Homo sapiens: one gene and its partner. The protein of the gene in region 2 interacts with the protein of the main gene of each other region in a biochemical or structural test. Each region holds a gene or a part of one and is shown on either strand. Other genes may lie near its edges. The genes, in order: GSPT2 and UPF1.

Region 1 (4,371 bases), on a different chromosome or scaffold from region 2:
AAAGACGGCCTGAGCCTTTCATTTTCAAATCACAAGTGGGGAAGCAGAAGAGCTCCTTTATTGACTGGACTTGGACAGAGAAAACAAAGCCCACTGGGAAGAGCCTTAACATACGTTTTTTTCTCAAAATTAAAATTATTCCTTTAATACACACTTATGCATTGTTTGTAAATTCCTCACTTAAAACAGTAAGTGGTGAAGAGTTTTTAAGTTTTTAAGTGATAGAACATATTCAACTATTTGAGAAAGTAATAAAGCTAATTGAATAGCATTACATAATGACATTTAAACATTATTCAAAAGCATTTCAAATAACCGAAGAGTTTCAAATGGAGTATTTTATTCACATGTTAGTTATCATTTTAACACACACACAAACACTGACACACTCTGGTTTGCGTGGAACAAGGGTGGTCTAAATATCCTAAAAGAAAATGAAAAATTAAAGTACATTAATTTTTCATTACTGTAGGCAATTACGTCCACATCACTTACAAAGCTATTACTGATATTGTCCAAGGAAGCAGAGTGGTACAGAGGAAGGAAACTTGAGGGTAAATTCATCAGTGACATAACAGATCTCAACATGAGAAAGCTGACAAAACATGAATTTTTGCTGTGAAATTTCTCTTTGCAAAATATGAAGAAAAGTCAATCAATGGGCAGTAAATAAGAGTAGGTGGTGAACTTTTGCTGTCAATTCTCCTCACAGTATCTTGCAGAGGCATCAAGAAAATTGCTTAGTCCTTCTCTGGGACCAATTTCAGAACTTTTCCAATTGCAATGGTCTTACCCTCATCTCTTAAAGTAAAACGACCCATCTGAGGAAAATCTTTGAACGTCTCGAGGCAGATGGTTCCTGCTGTCCTTAAACGAGCAATGCATACTTGATCTTGTTTCACGAAGCGGGGTCGTGTCTTACTTTTTTCTCCTGATTTTTTGTCTACCAAGGAGATTAACGCTGTTATCTCAACTTCCTCAATACAAGTATGAATGTGCAGCACCGCATTATAACCTGGGCAGATGATGGATTTGTGCTCAATAATCACTATCTGAACATCAAACGTGCGTCCAGAATGGCAGAGGTTACTAGGATCACAAAGTATGAATCCTGGAAGAATCTCTTCTTCTTCAATTCCCTTCAGTCTGATTTTGAGGTTTTCACCTGGGGCTACAAAATCAGTTTCAGTATCATCAGAAAGTATTCCAAGAACTTCTACATTGTGCTTGTTTGGCATCATCACGAGCTGCTGGCCTTTAAAAATGGACCCGGATTCCAGCTTTCCCAGGACCACAGTGCCCATATCTTTGTACTTATCCACAATTGGCAGTCTTATTGGTCCATCAATTGATCTGTTGAAGTTTGGCAAGTTATCCAAATACGGAATAAATGGTAATCCAGTGTACCAAGGGCAGAAATCTGACTGCTCTTTAATATTTGCTCCGGTCAGTCCTGAGCAGGGCATAAAGTGAATGTCCTTTTTTGGACTGAAGCCTACTTTTTTCAAAAAGGGCACCAGTTTTTCTTTACATTCTTCATATCTCTCGATGCTCCAATTTACTGTGGGATCATCCATCTTATTAATAAGCACTATTAAATGTTTTACCCCTGCCGTTTTTGCCAACATCGCATGTTCTCTTGTCTGTCCACCTTTTTCAAATCCAGTTTCAAACTCTCCTTTCCTGGCAGAGATGACCAGCACAGCCAAATCAGCTTGAGAAGCACCACCAATCATATTTGGGACAAAACTCTTGTGGCCAGGGGCATCTAAAATTGTGAAATGTTTCCTTTCTGTTTCAAAATAGGCACGACCCACTTCGACTGTTTTACCCTTGTCTCGTTCCTCCTGATTTGTATCTAAGGCCCAGGACAAATACCAGGTTTCTCTGTTTTTTTCCTTAGCTTCTCTTTCATATTTCTCCAGTGTTCTTTTGTCAACCATTCCAGTCAAAAACATTATCTGTCCTCCGATGGTTGACTTGCCAGCGTCTACATGGCCAATGAATACTACATTTACGTGTTCTTTCTTAGGTGCACCTGAGGGTACGATCACAGATTTGGATTTTCTTATTTCCTCTTTTTCCTCCATCATTTCCTGGCCACTTTCTTCTGGGGGCCCTGAATCTCCCGAGGAACCACCCCCAGGCTCGGCTTCACTTACTTCTTTACTGTGCTCCCATGATTCTTCTAGGGCCATTTCCACCTCTCCATTTTCTACAACAGGTTCTGAAAGTTCCATGGTAACGGCTGAATTGGAACCTTCAAGCGACACTAACGGTTCCTCTCGGGAAGGTTCCACAGGTGCCCCCCGTCCCATCCTTTTACCTTGAGGGTATCCCGCGCCGGTGCAGGTTTCATCGTTGCTGCCGGAGCCGGCCGGGAGGGTGGGCGGCTGAGTCGGGCCCCGCAGGAAGGACGGCACGAACTCCGCGGCGTGTACGTTAGGCACGAAGGGCTTGGCGTTGACGTTGAGCTTACGGCTGAAAGCCGAGCTGAGGGGCTCGCGCTGGGCCTCGGCCACCGCAGAGGAGACTCCATCCCCGCTCGGGGCCGACCCCGGGGATTCCATGTCCACCTGGTCCCAGCAATCGGGCGCCGAGTCGCTGCTGCTGCTGCCCGAATCCATGGTCTCGGAACTTGCTGTGTGGCAGTGAGGGAGCGGGCTCAACAGGCCAGAAGAGCGGGCTCCGCCGGCGGGGTTAAGGCAGCAAGAGCGAAGGGCCAAGGGGTAGCGACACGAACCTTAGCTGCACCGCGGAGGCAGCTAAGCGCCGATGCTGCATTCGCAACTGCGGCGGCAGCAGCAGATATGGCGGCTCAACACTCTCCTCTTGTGTGTGAGCGGATCTCCTCCCCCAAACCCCAACCACTTCCGACTCCTCCACCCCCGACCCAACGCCGGGCGTGGATTGACCCCTCGCTGCTATCCGTACGCTTGGCTTCCTTACTTCTTCTTAGCCACGGGCTAAGTCCAAAAGTATTATTTTTTAAAACGAAAATTTCCATTCACTTTTTTGTTCACACAGTCTGGCAGAGCAATTTGACCACAATCTGATGATTAAACCTAGACAGGAACACATGGTATACAATTCTACCAAAAGATTCAAGTAAAAGTGATCATTTCTATTGAACAAATGGGAGGCAAGATAAGGGTTAACTATACAGAAATTCAGAAACCCAGCAACTGAAGGGAGAGGCAAGGAATGGGTAGGGAGGGACTCATGAAATATATGAGTCTGTAGCCGAACTTAGGAAATGCAACTTAAGATCACTCATTAATTTGAAATCCACAGGCCTTTTGATTTTCCCTTTCCAGTGGGCCCCCATAAGCCTGTAACTTCTGCTGATGGCTTCTATAGTTTAAGGATAGGGTTACAACTTCTTTTCATGTTAAGCACCCTGGCTGTCTGAGGGGAGAGAATTTCCAAGGAGATCCTTGTTCCAGTGAAGCTTCCAGTCACTTCATATGCAGATGCCTGCACAATGGCTGGCCTGCCATTCAATGGTGGATCACGTAGACAAGCACAGGACTCAGATCACTCTTGTTTTACCAACCAACTGAATTCTGGGTTTATCTGCACTACTCCCCAGCACCTCCCTAGTACATCCTGCATCCACAGGCCTCGGGTTTTCCTGCTTCATTCCGGGGGGCCTGGAATCCTACTCACTGCACTGGCTTTGCTCTAAGAAACAATCAGTGTCATGTTGAACCCCTCTACAGTTTATGGTAATGAGACAGGGCTGTAGGTGTCAGCCTAATTAAACCAATTAAGACTTCTGAGATGAACAAAGACCTTAAGACCCTAATCAAAAGAATCTCACTCTCAGAAAGTGTTAACAGTTGAGTCAAAGCCTCAGCGACCTTGTTTGTAAATTAATTTAGTGCAAACTGACATAGAAAATACAAACTTATTCTCTGAATCTGTTTTTAGTCTTCATGTACTCAAATCTGTCACCTTTTGCTTTTATGAATTCAGGTTTTGTGACATACCTAGAAAGACTATTCAGTCCAAACAATCTGCTTAGTACAAGATGGTGTCACATAGATGGATTTATTTTTTTATTTTGAGACAAAGTTTCACTTTTGTTGCCCAGGCTGGAGTGCAGTGGCATGATCTCAGCTCACTGCAACTTCTGCCTCCTGGGTTCAAGCAATTCTCCTGCCTCAGCTTCCTGAGTAGCTGGGATTACAGGCGTCCGCCACCAAGCTCAGCTAATTTTTCTTAATATATATTTTTAGTAGAGACAGGGTTTCACCATGTTGGCCAGACTGGTCTTGAACTCCTGACCTCAGGTGATCCACCTGCCTCGGCCTCCCAAAGTGCTGGGATTACAGGCATGAGCCACCACGCCTGGCCTCATAGTTGGAT
Region 2 (3,198 bases):
ATTTGTGATTTAAACTCGTCACCAAGGTAACTGTCCTGAAAGACAAGGTCAGGAGGTAAGCAAGCCACAGGCCAAGGGTGCTCACATCCACCCAGCCCTCAGCAGCCCCAGAGAAAAGAATGGAAAACCCGTCCCCAAACTAAGACCCAGGAGACCCACTCTGATGACCCCAGCCCAGGGACAGGTAATTCAGACAGTGGACATGGGCCAGGCCAGCTCTCTGGGGCTCTTCAGAGGGAATGTTTCAGGTGCATAGCCCCACCCTCACTCAGGTAAGTCCCGTCCCAGGGGCGGGCTCACCTGGGACAGCTCCGGCTGGGAGAGGCCGGGCTGGCTCATCTGGGAAGGCTGGCTCATGGAGATGTAGCCCTGCGTCAGGGCGCCCTGAGAGAAGGGCTGTGACGCCACATCCTGGCTGGCTTGGCTGTTGGGGAGGTTAGTCTGGCTGGGTCCAGGAAGCCCAAAGCGGTTCTTCTGGCGTCCCCCACGACCAGTCTTGCCTTTCGGGGTGCCTCGCCCTGAAAGACAGCAGTCCAGGGTGATCCGAAGGAGGCCAGGGCCTCGCAGACAAGCACACCCTCAAGAGCTCTCAGGAGGGCCACACCCAGCCGCAGCCACAGATGCTCACCTGCAGCAGGCCCGTTGGCTTGTCCAAAATAGCCAGGCGGTGGCATGGGTGGCATGACCAGGTTGAAGGGGATGGGAATGTTCATGGCAGCCACGTGGCTAGGGCCGGCACTGATCATGCCAATCTGGTCATGGGTCTGGAAGTACATGCTGGAAGGCCGGCCTGCAAATCACAGTGGAACACGGCAGGTGTCACCTGCCTCGGTCAAACCCCAGCGATACCCCACCCACCCCACCAGCCAGTCAGCCGGAGCTGCACATCTGTCCTGGCTCTGCCCAGGCTGAAGATGCGGATTCGCAGGACTCCATGTTAACTACAGCAGCCTGCCTGGGGCTGGGTGCTTGGGCAGGCACCTTCCCCGAGGAGAGTCTGCTGGGAATCATTGGCCTACACAGATCTTAAAAACTGAAAATTGGGGCCGGGCGTGTTGGCTCAAGCCTATAATCCCAGCACTCTGGGAAGCCGAGGTGGACCACCTGAGATCAGGAGTTTGAGACCAGCCAGGCCAACATGGCGAAACCTCGTTTCTACTAAAAACACAAAAACTAGCCGGGCATGGTGGTGGGTGCTTGTAATCCCAGCTACTCGGGAGGCCAAGGCAGGAGAATCGCTTGAACCCAGAGGGGGAGGTTGCAGTGAGCCAAGATCACACCACTGTACTCCAGCTTGGGCAACAGAGCGAGACTCGGTCTCCAAAAAAAAAAAAAAAAAAAAAAACACCTGCAAATTGGCCAGGTGCAGTGACTCACGCCTGTAATCCCAGCACTTTGGGAGGCTGAGCAGAAGGACTGCTTGAGGCAGGAGTTTGAGACCAGCCTGGACAACATAGGGAGACCCTGTCTCTAAACAAAAAAAAGAAAATAAATGAAAATCACCCTGCATTTACCAAAGGAAAAAAAAAATCCTTTTTATGAAAATGTTCTATTTGTACTACATGCAGTCCCTGCCCTACCAAAAGGCAAGAAAAAGCTAACTAGCTTGATCACCAGGAAACACAAATGAATAAACTCTGGTTAAAGACAAACACCCCAGGAGTGTTCCGGGGCTAGAGATGCCCTAGGGGCGGGGAGGCCAAGGGAGCCAGGCACCGCCCTTGAGGGGAAGGAAAGATGGGGGCACCTAAAGCTGCAGCCATGGGAACGGCCAGCATCCCGGTGTGAGGACAAGGGGTCGGCCAGGTCCCCTGCTGAGCGACTCACCCTGGCTGCTCCGATCATAGACGGAGCCTGGGATGATGGCCTCCCGGGCATCATACATGGCTGTGGTCATGAAGCGGGCTCCCTGCGAAGGTTTAGATAGGTGAGGAATTTGTCATCTCAACAGAAGGAACAACTTCCCACGGGCCCGGTGGCCTGGGAGGTGGCAGGTATGCAGCTGTGAGGTGTTGACACTGTGCCAGGGGCTCTCCCTGGAGACAGGAGGGAGCTGCTGTCTCATGGCCTCTGGGTCTCGCCTGCCCTCCTCGGCAGACCTGGGCTCTGATGCTGACCCTTGGGCCTCAGCTCAGGAAGCTTCACACCCCCTCACTACCAGATCACCCCGGGCTTGCAAAGCTTCCAACTGCCCGTGTCCAAGGTCCCAGGCTGCTGCATGCAGCACAGCAGCCCTGAGCCCAATTCCCAGAGGCCACCCAGGACTTAGCGGCCCCAAGCCAAAAATGCCACACACGGCTCGGGAGACAAGAAGTGGGCTGGCCCACCCTCCCCTAGGAGAGCCCACCCTCCCCTAGGAGAGCCCTCCCTCAGCTCACGGGCACACGGGCCAAGCTGGCACGTTCCCAGCAGTGTTTTGGGCCCGGGTTTCTCCGTGCTGCCCTGCTGTCCTGTGCAGGCGCTCACCGGGTTGATAGTGTTGACCAGCTTCCGTGGCTTGCTGAACTGCATGAGGCTCTCACGCAGGTTGTTGAGCGGCCCCTCCACCAGCACCTTCTGCTCCTTATAGTAGTTCAGCAGGTGGTTCCAGAGCGGCTGCTTTGATAGTGCCTTCGGGTTGCCCACAATGATGACGCCATACCTGCAACAAGGGCGCAGTGCTGAGGACGCAGGTGGAGAGCTGCCCGTCTCACAGGACGGTCCAAGAGGCAAGGCTGCATTCACTCAGAACCCAAATCCAAGGCAACAGAGGCGTGGACCGGGCAGCAGGCAGGCTGCCAGCCACAGGGACAGGCCCCAAAGCCCAATGCCAAGCCACTGACCCTGCACACGGGTTGATTTTGTGGCCGACTCTAAGCAGCCCCATGGCAGACACCTGGCTGGGTGGATACGTTTGGAGAGAAGACCTGCTGTCAAGAGAGTCGGCCTTCCAGGCACCGGGGCACACGCGGCCCCACAGGGCCCCCAGCAGGCCGGGGCACTGACCCGATGCCCAGCTCCTCTAGCCCACCTCACGAAGCTGTGGGGGGACCCACCCAATACTGCCCACCAAACAAGAGGGCGCCTTAGAAAGAGGGAGTAACCAATGACAAAGCCATGGTGACCTAGAGGAGAACCACCGCGCATATGAGCCGGAAGGAGCACCAGGCTCTCTCCCTGTGCTGGGTGGAGCCACAGGCCAGGTCCCCCCAACTTCCA

The links.
Region 1: the proteins of UPF1 (region 2) and GSPT2 form a complex in vitro, tested with the Homo sapiens proteins (one study listed by BioGRID).

What each region holds. Positions count from the first base shown.
Region 1 is NC_000023.11:51,741,883-51,746,253, reverse strand, and holds GSPT2 (eukaryotic peptide chain release factor GTP-binding subunit ERF3B), read right to left. Parts: upstream 2,813-4,371; 5' UTR 2,628-2,812; coding exon 741-2,627; 3' UTR 22-740; downstream 1-21. UniProt on the Homo sapiens protein: GTPase component of the eRF1-eRF3-GTP ternary complex, a ternary complex that mediates translation termination in response to the termination codons UAA, UAG and UGA.
Region 2 is NC_000019.10:18,862,881-18,866,078, reverse strand, and holds part of UPF1 (regulator of nonsense transcripts 1), read right to left. Parts: intron 2,642-3,198; coding exon 2,467-2,641; intron 1,910-2,466; coding exon 1,828-1,909; intron 791-1,827; coding exon 629-790; intron 519-628; coding exon 301-518; intron 36-300; coding exon 1-35. UniProt on the Homo sapiens protein: RNA-dependent helicase required for nonsense-mediated decay (NMD) of aberrant mRNAs containing premature stop codons and modulates the expression level of normal mRNAs.